Linked DNA regions of Homo sapiens: region 1 is linked to region 2. Evidence: fine-mapped expression QTL. A gene starts in region 2. The other region holds a variant in brackets. All regions are shown on one strand. Distances are between the middles of the regions.

What was found.
Region 1: its variant is fine-mapped to the expression of SPTA1 in breast (GTEx, PIP above 0.99). The same link has a PIP of 0.9 or more in lung, spleen, subcutaneous fat and visceral fat.

The regions. Positions count from the first base shown.
Region 1 is chr1:158,650,402-158,659,847 of GRCh38, forward strand. It overlaps SPTA1 (spectrin alpha, erythrocytic 1), which reads right to left. Exons shown (of 52, transcript NM_003126.4): 19 at 7,076-7,293; 20 at 6,163-6,255; 21 at 4,210-4,347; 22 at 2,873-3,024; 23 at 2,066-2,252; 24 at 966-1,067. Among named protein-coding and RNA genes, the nearest start is that of SPTA1, 32 kb to the right of the region's middle. RefSeq lists a silencer at 8,305-8,505. The variant G/T (reference allele first, on the strand shown) is at 4,337.
Region 2 is chr1:158,680,776-158,690,221 of GRCh38, forward strand. SPTA1 (spectrin alpha, erythrocytic 1) reads right to left here and starts at 5,940. Exons shown (of 52, transcript NM_003126.4): 1 at 5,719-5,940; 2 at 4,333-4,572; 3 at 2,596-2,721; 4 at 752-892. The coding sequence starts at 5,742. RefSeq lists a silencer at 7,787-8,001 and a cis regulatory region at 8,361-8,658.

The sequences.
Region 1 (9,446 bases), 30 kb before region 2:
ACCACTATAAAAACAGGCAGAAAACTCATCCTCACTGACTATGGCATTCCAGAGAACTAGACTGAACATTTATTAATGTTCATTAGATCTTTTATGGAATCATAGATCCAGATCTGAATCAGGTCAAGAATGGCCTCTCCTCTGTCTCTACTGACCTATATTCTCCTTCTTCAGCACGTTGATCAGAATCTGTGTCTTCCAGTAAACTTTCTTGATCAACCTCTTCCCACTATCATAGCTTCTTTATCTGCATTGTCTTTGAATTCATGTAATTGAGAATTTCTTCTGTGTGTGACAGTGAAAGAGAGGTGAGTATGTGTTGTAATTTAAGAATTTTAGATCAGTTCAAATGTATATATTCCAAAATTGCAGTTCAAATTCAATTATATTATTGGGTGGACATGTAAGGAAAAAACTTTACGTTTAATTTGGTGTAGCCTGGTACAGAAGATTAAGAGGAGGTTTGGATATTGTAATTTGGATATTGTGCTATCCAATATTTGCTTTCAGATATAGAAACTGAGGTTTTTAGAAATGAAGAGACTTGTCTGAGGACACACAGTCAGACAAGAATACAGCTATGATGTAAATCTAATTTACCTAATGTCCAGTGTAATATTATCTAAACCTCCTAATCCTGCCTTTTAAAGCTACATCTTAATTTCTGCTACCAATACTTTTGTCTCCTTTCCCACCCCATCCATGAAATGACATATGTGAGGGCATGGAGGACACTCAATATATGTTAACAAATGAGCCTGCTTTAATTAAGTTAATTTAGACAACAAAAATACAGGGACTATTTGGGCTATTGTCTTTGGCCTTTCCTGTAGCTAATTCCATACTGCTGTTACCTTCTGCATGTTCTAGTGGGTCTGCAGAATATAAAGTTCCATGTTGAAGTGAAATGAGGACTCCCAAAGCCCAACCTGGTAGTGAGGAGGAATGGAGGGAGCCTTAGTTACCTGCCGGATTTGAGCTCCTTCTGGTGTTAGAAGTCCTTCAAATAGTAGATCATCAGCTACCTTGTTGATATCCCTTAGCCGAGGCTCATTGGTATTCAAATCCTGAATGGGAAAATTCATCCAAAGCAGTGTAAATTCATCCAAAGCAGTGTAAATCCCCTCATCAAGAATCTACCATACTTACCTGTCCATCTCTGCCCCTACATCACCGTAATACACACCAAGCTCCTCTCCTCCAATCCACCACTGAGAAGAGTATCCTTAAAGATCTTGACACCTAGTGGCTGTCCAAAACTTGTCAAGATAACTATTATTTATCTGTAGTATGAAGCACAGCCATTTTTCTAGATTTCTTAAAATCTCCCCTGGATTAAATTATACCATTAGAGGGATTGATACCTGAGCTGTGTAACATCCTTTTCTACCAGTACAAACTCCAGCTTTAAAGATTTCTTTAACTGAGTTATTATCTGCCTATATTATGAGATATTGTAAGAAACAGCTCTAGGGAGTGCTCTCTCTCTCTCTCTCTCTCTCTCTCTCTGTGTGTGTGTGTGCGCGTGTGTGTGTGTTAAATCCCACGTGGAAGATATCAAAAGAAAAAGAAAAGAAGGAATGTACACTCACTGCTAGTTAAGATAATGGAAAAAAATCTAAGGGAAGAAAGAATATTGAAAGGGTTTTAGGTAGGCAAAAAATTAGAAATTGTTTGTCAAGTCAGGTTCTTCCTTCTTCCACCCCAAACTCTGCCCCATAATTAAACTTTACACATGGTACAACAATACCTTATCCCAACCTGGGCACTGGAAACAAAGTATAGTATAGGGCAAGTTGTGAAGAATTCAGGAAGACCAGCACTCCAGGGAGGATTTTGGAGTGGCAGGCACTGAAGGCTGCAGTTAGGGTAACTAGTTTTCTCTGCATTTCCCTTCCAATTATTAGCAACTACAATACCTAGAGGGAGATCTCAGCCACAGAGTTGCCAATAGCTTTGGGGAGAATATTTAACAAGTGTGAAATAAATTAAAAGATCATGTAGAATATGCTGAGGGATAAAAGCAAACAATGGCAACCTTCAAGAGAAGGTTCCTCTTTCTCACCTTTTGGAACTCATCAAACTTTTTCTGCAGCTCCCAAACATCATCTAGTTCCACTCCAGTGTTTTCTGCCTTTTTCTCTTGAATCCATTCCAGCATGTCTCCTGCCTCATAGGCCAATAAAAATTCATTATAACGTTGCAATAGACGACGTCTGCGTTCTTCTGCCCGATCCAAGAGGGAGCGGTATCTGGATGGAGAATTGGGAAAAGTGGAATAAAAGAAGGAGAAAATACAGAAGAGTAGAGGCTGAGTGACAAACATAGAGAAAGAAGGAACAAAAATGAAAGGGAAAACAAATCAAAAGCAAAAGAATAGTAGAAGAGAGGAGGAAATAAACTTAGAAGGAAAACAGCCTTGGGGGCAAAAAGATAAACACATAGGATTGCATTTAAAAATAGTAAAAATGCCAGTGACCCAATAGTATGACTGGCAACATTCCTTTCCCATTTCATAAAAGTGACATTTTTACATGGTAACTGACAATTGGATATGAAAAGCCTGGCATAGTAAACAAAGTTCATATAGATGTCAGGAGACTTTAATAACCTTGAAAGAATGTGGGGCAGGGAATCAGAAGAGCTCTGTGAAGTGTATGACCTCAGGAAATTGATGGAATGATTCTGGGGTTGCCTTTCCTCAAAAAGAAACCGAAACATTTAAAAGATTCTAGGTTTACTTTCGATTCTTAAAATCTTCAGATTTTCTGTGGCATCTCAAATCTAACAGATGCAGGGTCATGAGAAGAAATGCCTTTGGCGAAAAATGTCTGACCAAATACTGTTCAGTTCTCCAGGCTCCAGAACTTACTGGTTCTCAATCTGCTCCTGGCGCTGGGTGATGTTTCCTGGCTCTTCTCGTCGCCGCTGTGGGAGCATCGGGAACTCATCGTGGGCCAGTCTTCTGACATAGACAGCTGGGACAATGCCCTGATGATCAGCAGCTTCCACCTTCCACCAGTCCTGAAGGGAGAGCAGATCCCCACTCCGTCATTAATTCTTGGAAAAGCAACAAACGGGAGAGACTTCAACACTAAGTCTCTTGGCCCAGGCACAGGTTAATGGCAAAGATAAGCTAACCATGTCTAATGAGTGGCACATAATTTTCATATATGACCAAGAAATGAAATGAAGAATTGCATAGACAAGCCCCTGAAATCAAGTAATCTGATACCTAATGTTAGACCCTTAACTTTGGAGAGATTTTCAAACACCCAAGACAGCTCTTTTAATGATGGGGCACTTTGTTCATGAGGAATTTACAAAAAACACATGGAGCCAGGCTCTAGCTGGATTTCTTGGCAGTGGAGCGTCTGTGTAAGAGGATATTGCACAAAAATTCTTCTCTTCTATTCTTCTTGCAGAGGTCTGAAAAATGTGAATTGCTCTGACATTCATATACCTGAGTGTTACTTTATTTTTTATTTTTGAACTGTTGCCACATCTACCAAAACCCTGAGGCTAATTTCCTCAAAAAATAATGAAGAGGCCTAGACAAAGAAAAAATGGACTGGCACACATTATTTGATAATGAAACATCTGCCGCTCCAAACATTTACTTGTCTTTGGAATAACTATAGCCCAAACTATTTTCTTTTCTTCTTAAGAATTTTTGTAGATTAATTAGGTATCAGAGTATAAAAAATTACTTCAGTTTTTATGAAAAATATATTTAAAAATCTCAACCAATATTTTATCACTGTTCTTCCAGGCACAAGATCTAAAGAAAATCAAGTTGACAAAAGACTCATCTTTTGGTAGGCTCCTTCTAACCCCAGACATTGTTATTTTATCACTAGAAATACTGGCACAGAAGAGGAACAAGCAAAGAGGAAGAAAGAAAGAGACAGCTTAGCCCTTTAAATATATTATAGAATTTCCACTCATACTTTCTATATCTTTGGGCTAATTATATAACTTCAATTCTTTATGATTTTAACTGCAACATTGGGATTATAATTCCAAAAGATATGTGTAGGATCCTGCAAAATATCTACAGGAAAAATACTACCTAATCAGTTATAGTTATTCAAGAAATAAAATAATAAAATAAATGTTAGATGGTAAAAATATGAATATCTGGCAGGATTGGGAGAGATGGTTCTGAAAGAGCCACTTTTTGATGGAAAGATTAGAAGGAAAAGTCACCTTATTGATGGAACTGAGCAGCGTTAAGACATCACCTTTCTTCATGGTGACTTCTCGGGGGCTGCGGGCCTGGAAGTCATATAAAGCCATGACCCTTTGTTCTCCAGCAACTCCCTCCACTGGTGCA[G/T]CCTGTTGTTGCTGAATAAAAACAGGAAGCAGGTGTCAGTCACGCACTGGAAATATCTCCCTGTACAGCTTACCAGGGGTGAGTAGTCCTTTAGGCTTCCCAGGAGAAAAGAGCCTCTGGCTGGAACCTCTTACGTGGCTGCAGAGATTAAAGTATGTGGTCTTCAGAGAGACTGCTCCATTCTGACACTTATCGGGGACAGGCAGGTTGGGAACTATAAACCCAAAGCAAGGAAGGAAATACATAATTTGTCAGAAACGTATTAAATGCTCTAAGCCATCAGTTCTTAAAATGGGAGGAGTACATTTTAAGAAGTGTACTCCCTTAAGAAGGTCCAACAGGATTATACACATCAACATTTCAAAAAATTGTTTGAGAAAGTGAAAAGACCCACTCTCTGTCGTCACCTTTCCCTGTACCTCCAGTGATAATTCTTCCCACTCCTTCTGGCCTTTAAGTTACTATGTCAGGAGCTCCGGACCTTCTATTTGAGATATGAGTGATCAATAGCACAGGAAAGGCCACAGAATTTTAAAAACTGAGAACATTAACTGAGATCATTAAAAGTATCTTGTGTCTCAGTTTAGTAAGCAGCCTGCATTCTAAGGTAGAATTTTCTCTGATTTTTACTTTCTGCCAATTTCATGTCTCTGAGAAATCAAGCAAAACATAACCCCTCTTCCTAAGGAATGACCCACCCCTTCCTCAGGTTGGAGTTGAATATGCACCTCCACCGACAGAGCCCTCTAATTTCATCTCCTTTAGGTAACATGTTTCCTCATACCACACAATATATAAATCCTTCTGTTCTTGTTTAGGCACCCACTGTGCAGAGCCTGGTGAAGGCACAGTATAGGAGGTCTGTAAATATACACTGATTTGACAGACTGAGTCTACGTCTTTTGTTTACTCTGAATGTGTGGATTAACAACCTCTCATTAGAAAGAATTCCTTGAAGGTAAGAAGTGTGTCTCTTTTTTTCTACCACTACATATAGTAGACATTGTTATAACATTTATTTGATTCCAGTTCAATTAATCTTCATGACACCCAGTTTTGCCCTGTACCTGAGCCATTCTCATATTCTCAACCAATTGCATCTTCCATTCTCACATTCTTAACCAATTGCATTTTCCACAAAACTTGATTGTTTTGTGCCTCAGTGCATTTGCTCTCATGGTTTATTGACTAGAAAAACGCTTATCCTCTTTCTCTGCACAGTAAACTACCCATCTGTCTTTCCTTAATAATTCAGATCAGGCGGTTTCCCTTAGCTTACAAAAATTTTCCTGTTTTCCAGTACTGTTATTTCAAGAGAACACAAGAGGCCTTTCTTTGAGACTCTTTGTCCTGTTCATACATCTATTATATGCACTTACTGTTAAACATCTGGCCTCCTAATAGACTGTAATTTTCCTGCAAATCAGGATTTTTTATTCATACTTACATATAGTAGACATTTAATAAGTTTTGGCATTAAAAATTAAGAAACAAAAGAAGGGAGTAAAGAAGAAAGATAAGAAGGAGAGACATAAATGAAGAAAAGTAAGAAAGAAAGAAGGGTAGAAATATAAAAGGAAGGAAAGAGGAAAGCCAAAAATACATCAATGAAGACATGATACCATTTATCAAAAACCTCTTTTGGACAAAGTCTCCTTTGGACTAAATTGTGGATGCTACAGTTCCTGCATACAAGGGTCATAGAACTTAGTGTTTTCTTTGCCATTGTTTTTGGGGTTGTAGAAAGTAAAAAATCAGCAATAAAGACAATTTCTTTTTCTTTGTGGTGGGAAGTGTGAATCCTGTCATCGCTAAGTTAGTCTTACCTGGCAGGCGTTTGCCTGATTCCGCAGAGCTTTCATACTGTCTCCAAATGAATTGAGATCTAATAGAAAGGCCTCATGCTTCTTTAGAAGAGCCTGCATTTATTGATGGAAGATCATCAGAATGAATATAGGAGGAACACTATTATTTCAACTACTATTATTTTGGGTTATGCTATTTGTCTTAAATCCTGGTAAAAGCTGCTTTCCATCTATCATAAAGTTATTTTTAACCCTAAATTTGCAAGCATGAAGGAAATAGGAATTAATAAATTATAATTTCAATATGTTTACTAAAATCAAAATTAACTCAAACTTGCAAAAGTATTTTTATCAACACAGATTATAGCTGAAAAGAGGATGCTGTTGATACTGTTACTTTATAGGATAAACATTAGTGTAACTTAAAATATGCATACCAATAATTTCTAGTTCCAAAGGTTTGTGAAATACTATACCAGCTTCCTATGGGACAATGTGCAAAACAAATAAATGGATAAAAAGTGTGATTATAACCTTTGTGGTTCTTCTTGCCCCAACATATCTGTCCAATTTTATTTTAATCAAGTAATTAAGGTGTCTCTATCTTAAAACCATGATTAATTTATAAATGCTCAAGGTTACTCTGGAAAGTTTAGGATCGGATTATGACTATGACTCTGATCACACTTTTTTGATTTAGATAATCTCTAAAGAGTATATGAATCTCCATGGGATGAGAAAAATGTAGCATATCTTTTGGGATTCCTGTCAACTCTGAGGGAGTCTCAGCAGATGAAGGCCAACGGCGACCACTCTGGAAACCCCAAATAATCTGGCAGAATCTGTAGCTGTCCCACAACCTAAGCAAACCCTAAATTGATAATTTGGTTGCGTTTGTTGAGGATTCACAATGTTAAACCCACCCCCACCTTACCCCAGCTGCTTCTTCATCAGCACCATAGTTAGTATTATCTACAATAGGTTCCTTCTCTCTGATCCATGTTTCTGCTTCATGCAGGTCAGCCAGGTACTGCTGGAACTGGACATTGGCTTCAAGATCATTTTGTCGCCTAGCAGCTCGAGCACGGAGAGACTCCATATTCTGGTTCAAACTCTTGACCCTAGAGGCCACATCTTCTGCAGCAAAGTGTCCTATGGAGTAATTATAGAAAAGGTGAGTATGATCCTCATGAGTGTTTACCATACTCTAATCCTTTTGGTACCTTGGAAAAGAGAAAGGAAGTGATAAAAATGGTATGTTATTTAGTCGACGTTATATTTTTCTTGAGTTACCTGGGAATTGAAATATCCTAAGTGAGATTAAGTAACAAAAGGTACTAATGGGAGATATGCATGTGGTGGTGAATGGGTTGGTATTGTCTGACAAAGACAGACTTGAAAACAGAATACTAATGTGTGGGTGACTGAGAGTTCCAAAATCATGTCTTCTTTAGATGAAGCAGAAAAATCAGCTGATTTCCATTTCTTCCCATAAAGGAGTTATTACTATGAGAGTTGCTCTTCCACCCTAAACAACTAGAAAACAGGAAAAGCTGTAAGATAAAATGATTTTCAGACAATGGAGAGAGGACTCTGATTCCTGAGAGAAGGGAAATAAATGAGATATATTTTATAATTGCCAAGCTTATGCCTCAGGAGGTTTCTGGGCTGTAGGCCTGGGTAGCTAACCCAGATAGAACCACCAGTCACACTGAATTGAGGACACAGAGATCAACATTTGGGAAAGACAAGAGAACTAGAACTTGTGAGGTTGAGTGTCAAAGAGAAGGGTGTTACAGAGAGATAGACCTTTTCAGAGAAGTTCCCTAGAGTATTTGTCTGATTACTCATATGCACACATGTATAAGGAAATCCTGGAGGGTGAGAAAAGAGTGACTTAAAAGCAGTGGACAAACAACTTCTAGGCCTCAATTAAGAATGAAAATAGTTAACATTCCACCCATCAAAGTGGAAAAATATTGTAATACATGAGATAGGGTCCTCAGAAGAGTAACATATCTCAATATTACTTTCATCTCTAAATCAGTCCCCTAATAAACCCTGCCCCAGGAGTACCATAACAAAACAGATCCAAGGAGCTCAACAATCACCGAGCTGAATAAACAAGGAAAACTCCATCAAGTTATAGCATAATCAAGTTGTTTAATACCAGTGATAAAGAGAAAAGCTTTAAAACAGGTAGAGGGGGAAAAAAAGACATATTACATACAGAGGAGCAAAGATCATGATGACAGCAGACTTCTTATCAGAAGCTTGCAAAGTCAGAAGACAAGACAGCACATCTTTAAAATACTGGAAGAAAGAAGTTGTCAACCAAGAATTTTATATGTAGTGAAAATATATTTCAAAAAGGAAGGTAGAATGAAGACCTTTAGATGAACAAAAGTCTAGAGAATTTATGGATAGAAGACCTGCAATATAAGGAATGTTAGATGAAGTTCTTCAAGCAGAAGAAAAATAATACAAATGAAAATATTAACCTAAAGAAAGGAATGAAGAATACTGGAAATGGGAACTATGAGGGTGAATTTTTTTCTCATTTAATAATCTCATTCAAAACCAGTTGACTACCAAAGCAAAGATAATGATGTTGAATTATAGGGTATATAACATGTAAAAATTTAAAATATGTGACACCAATAGCACAAGGGTGAAAACAAATGGAAGTATCAATTTAAGAATCTTATATTAAACATGAAATGCATAATATTATTTGAAATTAGACTATGATAGATTAAAAAAATCTATATTTTAATTCCTGGAATAGTGGCTTTCAAATTTGTGCTTTTGGGATCCCTTTACAATTTTAAAAATTATTAAGAATGCAAAATATCTTTTGCTTATATAGTTAGACTGATTAATAGTTCCCATATAAGAAATCAAAACAAGAAGCTTTGAAAGAAAAGAATGTACAAGCATATACTCCATTAGACAGAACAGTGACATCATCACCCATCTCTAGGCTCTGGGAAACTCCATTCTATGCTTATAAAAGAATAAGTCTGTAAAAGAAAATAATAGTCTTAGCATTATTTTTTTTTTTTTTTTTTTTTTTTTTGAGACGGAGTCTCGCTCTGTCGCCCAGGCCGGACTGCGGACTGCAGTGGCGCAATCTCGGCTCACTGCAAGCTCCGCTTCCCGGGTTCACGCCATTCTCCTGCCTCAGCCTCCCGAGTAGCTGGGACTACAGGCGCCCGCCACCGCGCCCGGCTAATTTTTTGTATTTTTAGTAGAGACGGGGTTTCACCTTGTTAGCCAGGATGGTCTCGATCTCCTGACCTCAT
Region 2 (9,446 bases):
TTCTGTAGGTCAAAAACTCAAAACTCCTGCTTGCATTCCCAGGATAACTCAAATGGAGATACTGGGGGAGACTGGGAGAAGCTCTCCTGGAAAAGGCCAGCAGCAGAAGTATATTTGTTAAGGTAGCACCTTGGCACAAGGGAAAGTGCTCTTTCGGGCAGTTCTTTAGCAAGTTTGTGGCATTACTGGCAAGAGACCCTGAAAGTACCCTTTTGTGTTTTGAAACATGAGGGATAAATTCATCCTGTTTCTACTCAATTCAACATATCAGTATCTACGAAAGTATTTTGTTAGGCATTTGCTTATCTAAATCTTTAGTCCTAACTATTAAATTATTCCTTTAGTATTTAGAAAAATAAAACCCTCCATCTTTATAGGCACTGAGACACAAAGGATTAGAGAAAGAGCTGTCAATACTCTCAGCCAGACCCCAGAGTAAGAGCAAAAACATAGGAGAAGGAGTTAAAAATCATGGAAGTGGAAGAGAGATGAGCCTAATTATCTTTCAATGCATGGTCTTTGTGTAAGTCTTGCCTTTTTCATATTCAGATCCATATGTTAAGACTTACTTCCATACAATGTTGACCTCCAGATACCCCTACATTTTGGCCCCAATTTCCTCTTGTTCCAAAGAACAAAGCCAGGAACAGACATCCTGACTTCCTTGTGAGTAGTCTGCAGTAATTTGCTATGGGGTACCTGGGACAGAGGAGTGGGAGGCCCTGTGTGATTGCTGTTTTAAGTTCGATACCTTGTCTCCAATCCACTCTAAGATGTCAGCACACTCCTGTACATACTGCTGGAACTTCAGGGCCCGCAGCAACTGGTCACCCTTCTCCAGGGTCAGCTCTAACAGCAGGTCCCACAGGTGGCGTAGCTCCTCTATATGGGCCTTTAGGAAAGAGGGGCAAAACCACTCAGCCACAGACACTGGGAGCAGGGAAACACTCAGAGACTTGTGCAGAAAGAGACCTGGATAAAAATTCTTCTCTCAGTTACTCATGCATTAGTTGCTCAACAAACATTTAAAAGAGGAAATAGGATAGATATATGGAAATAGCTAACAAGCCAAGCCAAATGCGATCTTACATAAGAGAACAATTTGTAAAAATGCTTTGCAGTTTTAAAGGATGGAATAATTACAAACAATAAGATGGGAAGGAGGAAGAAAGCATGGAAAAGTGTTCATTTGAACTGAGCCTTATGGAGCAGAAAGATTTTTGACAGGTCAATCATAAGCATAACATGTTCTAAGAAGAGCAAACAGCAATAGCAAAGGCATAGGAGAAACTTAGCATGAATTGTCTGCCAGAAAGTGTGAGAGCTATAATTTTTATAAGTTATAAGGAAATCATTGGCACCGAAACAATAACAGTGTTTTGGGACTATACAGTTTGAGAATCTACAGAGGGCTTTGAATGCCAGATTAACTCAGAACATTATGTATTACCTGTCTTATATAACTGAAATTGCCACCTATGTCATATCTTCAAGAATCTTATATTTTTCAACTACTCCATTGCTCTGGGTAGCATGTGGACCACATATGTCGTTAAACCCCGCAATGGTACCATTTGCTATAGCCCCAGTGATTCTGACAGAAATGAAGATGTTTCAAACATTTCTCAAATATTGTAATTAATGTAGATGCTGGTTACATGCAAAACTGTGCATAATACAAAAGTTAATTATACTTTATACAAATAAACAAGTTTTGAAATTTTCCTTTTATGGGTTCTTCTTTAAAATAAGATTCTATTCTGGCTAAAATCTGTGTCCGTTGACCATATTTTGATGACAGAATGGGCTAGAATTTTTATGCTATATATAGAAAGGCCAGACCCAGTTTTAAGATATATAATGCAAATTTGTTTTGACAATTAAAAAAATACATAAACAGTAAAAAGTTCACTCACACACAAAAAAATTGAATTGACAATATTAGCACAAACATTTGGAAGAGTTCGTAGATTAAGTCCAAAAATAGCTGTTACATTAATAATAGATTACAGAGTATGAATCCTTATTGAAATAGTGATGATCTTCATTTCTAGATGTTCAGAGAAAATTTTCTGACTACATGACATTTGGGAGTTTTTAGAAGTAATAAGAAGGGACAGTTTGGAGAGGTGCAATAGTAGTCATAGGGTATGGTGTATGAAAAGAAAGAGGCATCATAGACAAAGGAAAAATATTTTGGAAAACATTCAAATGAGAGAGCATTCCTTATTTGGAGAAGTTAAGAGACAAGGACATTGAGGTTAGAGGAAATAATTAGAAAGAACATTGGAAAAAACTAATTGATCTGGATAATGTGGAACAGGTTTAAGTGGGCTTGATCTTGAGCCAAATTATCCTGCACTGTTATAGGAGGAATTTTATGCCATTTAATGACAGCTTTAATATCACAGCTCTCTTCACCCCAAGAAACACGAAGATATCCCATCATTTTTTATGCCTCAACCCCAGGGGAAGATAAGAGGCAGGAGTCCTGGGTATAAGCCAGCCACTCAAGGTTTATATCTCATATAATCAGTTAAAACCCTGATAACATAATCAATAATTGGAAACTTCTTCAAGGGCCCATACATATACCTTCGTTTCTTCGTGGGCAGAATGACCCATGGTAAATCGTTCTTCCCTTGTTTTTTCCAGTTCAGACATGAGTCTTGATTTTGTTTGCACCTCTGCTTCAAGGGATTGATGCTTCTGATATTTCCCCTAAAGTTTAGAAATCAGAGTTTTTGTCTAATGAAGCACAGTCTTCATGGGAAATGTTCACTCTATGTAAAGCCACCAAACACAGGTTCTCAAAGGGTCCCAGACTCAGAGGCCATAAAGAGTATTTTCCTGTCCCCACTGGCTTTAGGAAGTTTTCAGTAAATACTGTCCTGAGCTATGCTGAGCCTTATGATCTATGCCGAGCCTTATTTTAAAGGCTCAATAGACTGCCATAGGAATAAAAGAGTGTAACACACAGTGTCCTTCCTCATCAGAAAAGAGGAATAACTGATTTTTTTTTGGAAGTAGAGCACAATGAGAAAGATGATAGTTATAATAATGGTTTTTAAAAAAAAAAATTGAGAGTTTTTTTTGCATGCTGTGCCTGTTCTTGTAATCTATAAATTGATCCATTCAATATAGCACATTATTTTGCTCTTGTTCTAGGTGTTTCCTGTCCAACATCAATTGCTTCTGATTATGACAACACCACATGCTATAATTTTAGGTGAATAGAAAGGGGTAGGCACTTTCACCAAATTTCTTCTACTGAAACCTCTCTTTTGAAGTTAAGAGCCATGAATAGCAATTTAGGGAAGAAAAAAAAAAAACTCTGGTTAACTCATCTCTCTGAGAAGAGTAGAGAACAGGTATCACATGCTATAATTTTAGGTGATCAGAAACGCGTAGGAGCTTTCACCAAACTTCTACTGAAACCTCTCATTAGAACTTGAGACCCATGAACAACATTTTAGGAAAAACTTAAGAGCCATGAATAGCAATTGAGTTAACCAGGTTAACTAAATTGGATTTTAGTTAACCTGGTTAACTCTTATATTTCTGAGAAGAGTGGAGGACAGTTGCTTCAGAAGCATTGATGACTCTTCACCCTATTTCCCTTCTTAATGTCCCAAAATATCAAAAATCACATGGTTTGTCAGAAATTTCTTGAATTTGCAGTTGCTGTTTTGCCTGTAGGTCAATTTCAGATGAGTATTGTAACCATCAAATTCTATACAGAATAAATCTCCTTTGCAAATAACACCCCGATGTTTATGAAGATGAAGACATGGACTATTTAGAGGCAGAATTACTGTTTCTAACAGACAGTCTAATTTTTCCATTACATCACTCCCACTACAATTAACCAGATATACACTTACATTACCATAATATTTGTGCTGGATCTGAAAAAAAATTGATGTAATTTTTTACTTTTGGCATTGATGAATGCTTCACCATGAAAATATGTAAAGTATCCTATGCCCTTATCAATAAGCAATATCCTTGGTTAATGATTAAAAAATGTATATTCTGAATGGAAGTTCATTGTAAAAAACAGTTCTGTGCTTTCAACAACTGAAAAACTGCTGCTTTTTGTTTGATTCTTATTTTCTCAGTCTCACCTCTCCAACTTCATAAGGGAAAATGCACTTTTAGATTTTCTATTAATTTATTTCTTTAACTTCCCACTCCACTGACTTATTTTTGTTTCTAAACGGAATCTAATTGTACCCACACATACCCATTAACATTAACATAAAGAAAAACCTATTTCCTTCTCTAGAGATCTTAGGGTCTGCTCTGAGGCAATCAAGAGAACTGAGTGACCTGTATATTAGTTGGGTCTTCATAGCTCTTATCGGTTAAGATATTGACTTTCTCCATGATCCACTTCCCCAGATCATCTGCATCTCGCTTGAAAACTTGTAAGTGATAGGAATCCTCAAGCTTCTGACCCCTCTCAGCGACCCGCTCCTTGAAACTTTGATACCGAGTCAACACTTCCTGACGCCTCTCCTGGATCTCTTCTGCTGTTTCCAAAACCTTTGGCCCACTGCTCTCCACAACCTGCAAGTTAAAAAGATTCTGTTACTTGCTAGTTCTCAAATATTTAACATGTTGCCCCGCTTATATGTGTCAAGGTGTTTACTCATGTTGGACCTATATTCAGATATCCTGAAGTTTCTAGGGACTATTGTCAGAAGAGCTGTAGTATATTTACGTAATTTTTAACCAGACATAGCTTCTGTTTAGGTTAAAAATTCTTGATTATCCAGAAGACTCTCCTCACTTTTTACATAAATTTGTGCTAGCATTTAAGTTCTATAGATATAATTATATTGGACTGATCATGGAGCAAGTTTAAATCAGCAAAATCACATAATTTCAGATAGATAAAAAGAAATATAATGTTATTGCTTTCAAGGGCTAAAAAGGTGTTGAGAAGTGCTTATTATTTTTAACTTAATTTAATAAATAATTAAGAATGGCTTGCAATTAATTTAGTTAATGATATATGCAACAGTTTGAAAATTTTGTTTCCTTCATACTTAAAAATAAATCTCATATATTTACTCTTTACTTGCTTTACTCACAAACACTATAAATCAAAAGTTCAGCTATCTTCTGCCCAATTGTCACAAATTTCAAATTATTAGCATGTCTGCAATTTATTTTTGAAATATAAAAACTTTTACTCTAAAACAATATATAAGTATCCTTTTCCCAGAGTGGGAGCCAACCTGTTTGTGACAATATCCAGCAAAATCACCATAGGGTTCACCTTCATTCTTCTGGATATGGATACCATTTTCCCTAGCTTACCTCAGCCAAAATGTTTAATATAGAGTTTAAATTTTAATCTCCCATTATTCCTCCTAAGTATAATTGCTACTCTGTGAATTGCCATTACTGGCATGGCTATAGAATTAGATCATTACATGGAGACTCACGTTGTTACTAGGTGTTATTTAGCTTCAATCTCCCTACTTATTCTCTCTGGGAACCGACTTAAGTCATTACTGGGTCTTGGTGCTGCACAGACATAAGCTCAAGGTTATTGTTCACAAAAAATAGTTAAAAGTAAAATTATCTATTTGTTAAAAGCCAAATAATTATTAATGTTCCTGGGAAAGATAGTATAGAAAGTTTAAAGGAAACATCTTTCCTAATAATATTAATGACAAATTGCATGGAAGAGAAATATGTACTTACGGTTTCCTTTGGAAATTGCTCCATTTTTCCTAAAGGTTTAGAACCTGGCAAGATAAAATGTGTCAGAGAGAGAGAGAGAGAGAAATAATTCAAATGGAACTGTCCAGTCGAATTCAAATAGAAATATAGAAACGTTAAGTATGTGGGGGAAAAAAAAAAACCTCTTGCTTGGTCCTAGAATCCCATCAGCCATACACAATCGACATTATCTTTAGAAGACATACTCAGCTGAGGCAACTGCTAAGTTTTACAGATACTGGGTGACTCAGCAGTTTTGGGAGGCTCTGGCTTTCAAAGTTACTCAATAAGACTTAAAAAATGAAAGTAAGGTTTTTGGATGAAAAATTAGAAAAAAAACCCCATATATTTATAGGAAATACAGCTCAACAACTTCATCCAACTCAACTGCAGATTTTTCACAGTCTTTAAGTCAACGAATTATCCTGGCTTTTTCTAGAGAGTCTTTCACAAAATAAGATTTTATTCCTAACCTCAACAATTTGGTCTTTAAAAATCTGATTTAGTTGTACTCTTAATCATTTAAATGGAAGGAACAAAAAAAGTTATATGATGTGTTCATTAATATTTTGTAAAACAAAAATTAGGATACCTTATTTGACAAACCAATGATGTCACAAAAAAGTTGAAAATATGGCTGACTTCTGATATATATGGTATAAATCATCCTACTGTATGTATTAATTTTAATGGAGAACAAAAAGAGGTAGACTTTTTCCATAGGCATAGTTATTTTAGACTAACTTACAAAAATGAAACAAACAAGCAAAAAGAAAATAGTGGGATGCTCTTAGACCTTTCTACAAGCCAGTGGGGCTATCCATGCCAAACTTCATTCCAGTGTAAATGCAGCTTGAATAATCTAACTTCCATGATCTACAAGAGAAGATTTTGATTCTACATTTGTGGTTTCCCCTGTTCTTGGATCTCACATAGAAAAACTGAGAGTCCTTTACATTCTCTTCTTGAAAGTCTGGATTACTTTACTTTTCCATATAGTTTCATTATATTCAAGTCAAATTTAGTAGTAAAGGCAGGAACATAATTTTAGAGACTGCACTATAACACATGCACTGAGGAATATTTGTCTGAAGTTGGGATAAGGAGAGGAAATTATTTTATCTTTAAGAGAAAAGAATCAACATCTATGAAATATTTATATATTAACATGATCAATTTACATTAATTTCTAATCTTTAAAAATTCTGTGAGGCAGGTATTATCATACCCGTCTTTATGTGAGAAAACAGTCCCTAAAAAACAAAGTTTCATTCTATGGTGATTTGGTTTGAAAGTATTTAAATAGTCAAATCCATATCAATATGATTATCATGGCACTCTGCTCCTTATTTTTTTAGTCAATCTTCTCTTAGTCCATCAACATTATTTGTTCTGTTTCCCTGTTCCAGAATCATCTTAGCAAGAATGCCAAACATGTGATAACCTTGTGACCAAAGAAATAGTATGGCCCATTGTGAATAGTGCCACAATATACATATGTGTGCATGTGTTTTTATAGTAGAATGATTTATAATCCTTTGGGTATATAGCCAGTAATGGGATTGCTGGGTCAAATGGTATTTATGGTTCTAGATCCTTGAGGAATTGCCACACTGTCTTCCACAATGGTTGAACTAACTTACACTCCCACCAACTGTGTAAAAGCATTCCTATTTCTCCACATTGTCTCCAGCATCTGCTGTTTCCTGACTTTTTAATGATCGCCATTCTAACTGGCATGAGATGGTATCTCATTGTGGTTTTGATTTGCATTTCTCTAATGACCAGTTATGATGAGCTTTTTTTCATATGTTTGCTGACTGCATAAATATCTTCTTTTGAGAAGTGTCTATTCATATCCTTTGCTCACTTTTTGATGGGGTCATTTGTTTTTTTCCTGTAAATTTGTTTAAGTTCCTTGTAGATTCTGGATATTAGCCCTTTGGAACCAACCTGAATGCCTATCAGTGAAAGACTGGATAAAGAAAATGTGGTACCTATACACTATGGAATACTATGCAGCCATAAAAAAGGATGAGTTCATGTCCTTTGCAGGGATATGGATGAAGCTGAAAACCATCATTCTCCACAAACTATCACAAGGACAGAAAACCAAACACCACATGTTTTCACTCATAAGTGGGAGTTGAACAATGAGAACACATGGACACAGGGAGGGAAACATCACACCCTGAAGCCTGTTGCGGGGGTGGTGGGATAGGGGAGGGATAGCATTAGGAGAAATACCTAATGTAGATGACGGGTTGATGGGTGCAGCAAACCACCATGGCATGTGTATACCTATGTAACAAACCTGCATGTTCTTCATATGTGTCCTAGAACTAAAGTAAAATCATCACAATAAAAAGAAAGTAAAAATGCTTACTAATTCTATAATGTTTATTTTAAAAAAAAAGAAATAGCATGGCCCAATCAGCAGAACTGATCATAAGGAAATAAAAGTGTCTTTTCAACATATGTGTTGGAAAAATTGCATATTCACATAAAAAAATGAAATTGGACCCTTATGTTATGTACAAAAATCAACTCAAATGGGATTAAAGACTTAAATTACAACCTGAAACTGTAAAACTCCTGGAAAAAAAAAAACACAAGGAAAAAGCTTTATGACTTTTATCATATATAATAAGAATTATATATTTAGTATTTTATACAGTTTTAAAAGGATGGGGATAATTTGGAGGGCTGTTGTATCTGGCCATGGTTATCACCTCAGGGAGGGTTTGTACTTTACATAGTAGTTTAATCAGCACTGAACAGCTTGCCTCAGCTGCTGCTCAGGCATCAGAGCAAAGTGATCTGTTTGGTCTTGCCAAGTACTTCTTGGATACGGTACCAGAAACAAATGCAACAAAAGCAAAAATAAACAAATTGGACTACATCAAACTAAACATCTTCTGCACAGCAAAGAAAACAATAAGCAATAAAAAAAGTTCTCTTATGGAATGGAAGAAAATATTTGCATACATCTAACAAGAGGTTAAAATCCAAAATATACAAGGAGCTTCTTCAAATCTATAACAAAAACGAAAATTAGAAAATGAGCAAAGGACTTGAACAGATGATTTTCCAAAGAAGACATACAATTGGCTAACAGGTATAAGAAAACGTGCTCAACATCACTATCAGGAAAATGCAAATCAAAGCGATACTGAGATATTATCTCACATCTGTTAGGATGGCTACTCTCAAAGGAATAGAAAAATAAGTATTGCTGAAAATATGAAGAAGTTGGAACAATTGTACACTGTTGATAGAAATGTAAAATGGTGCAGCCACTGTGGAAAACAGTGTAGCATTGCCTAAAAACGAAAAATAGACCTATCATACAATCTAGCAGTCCCACTTCTGGGTATACAGCCAAAAGAATTAAAATCAGGATTGTAAGGAGGTATTTGCACTTTTGCACTTTTATGTTTATCTCAGCACTATTAACAAAAGTCAAGAAATGGAAACAATTGAAATGTCTATGACTGATGAAAGTGGCATGTACATACAATTGAAATAATTCAGTCATAATAACAAATGGAATCCTGTCACATATGACAACATGAGTGAACCTTGATGAAATTATGCTAAGTGAAATAAGCCAGTCACAGAAGGACAAATACTGCATGATACCACTTATAGGAAGTATATAAAATAGTCCAACTCATAGAAACAGAGTAAATAGTGCTTGTCAGAGGCTG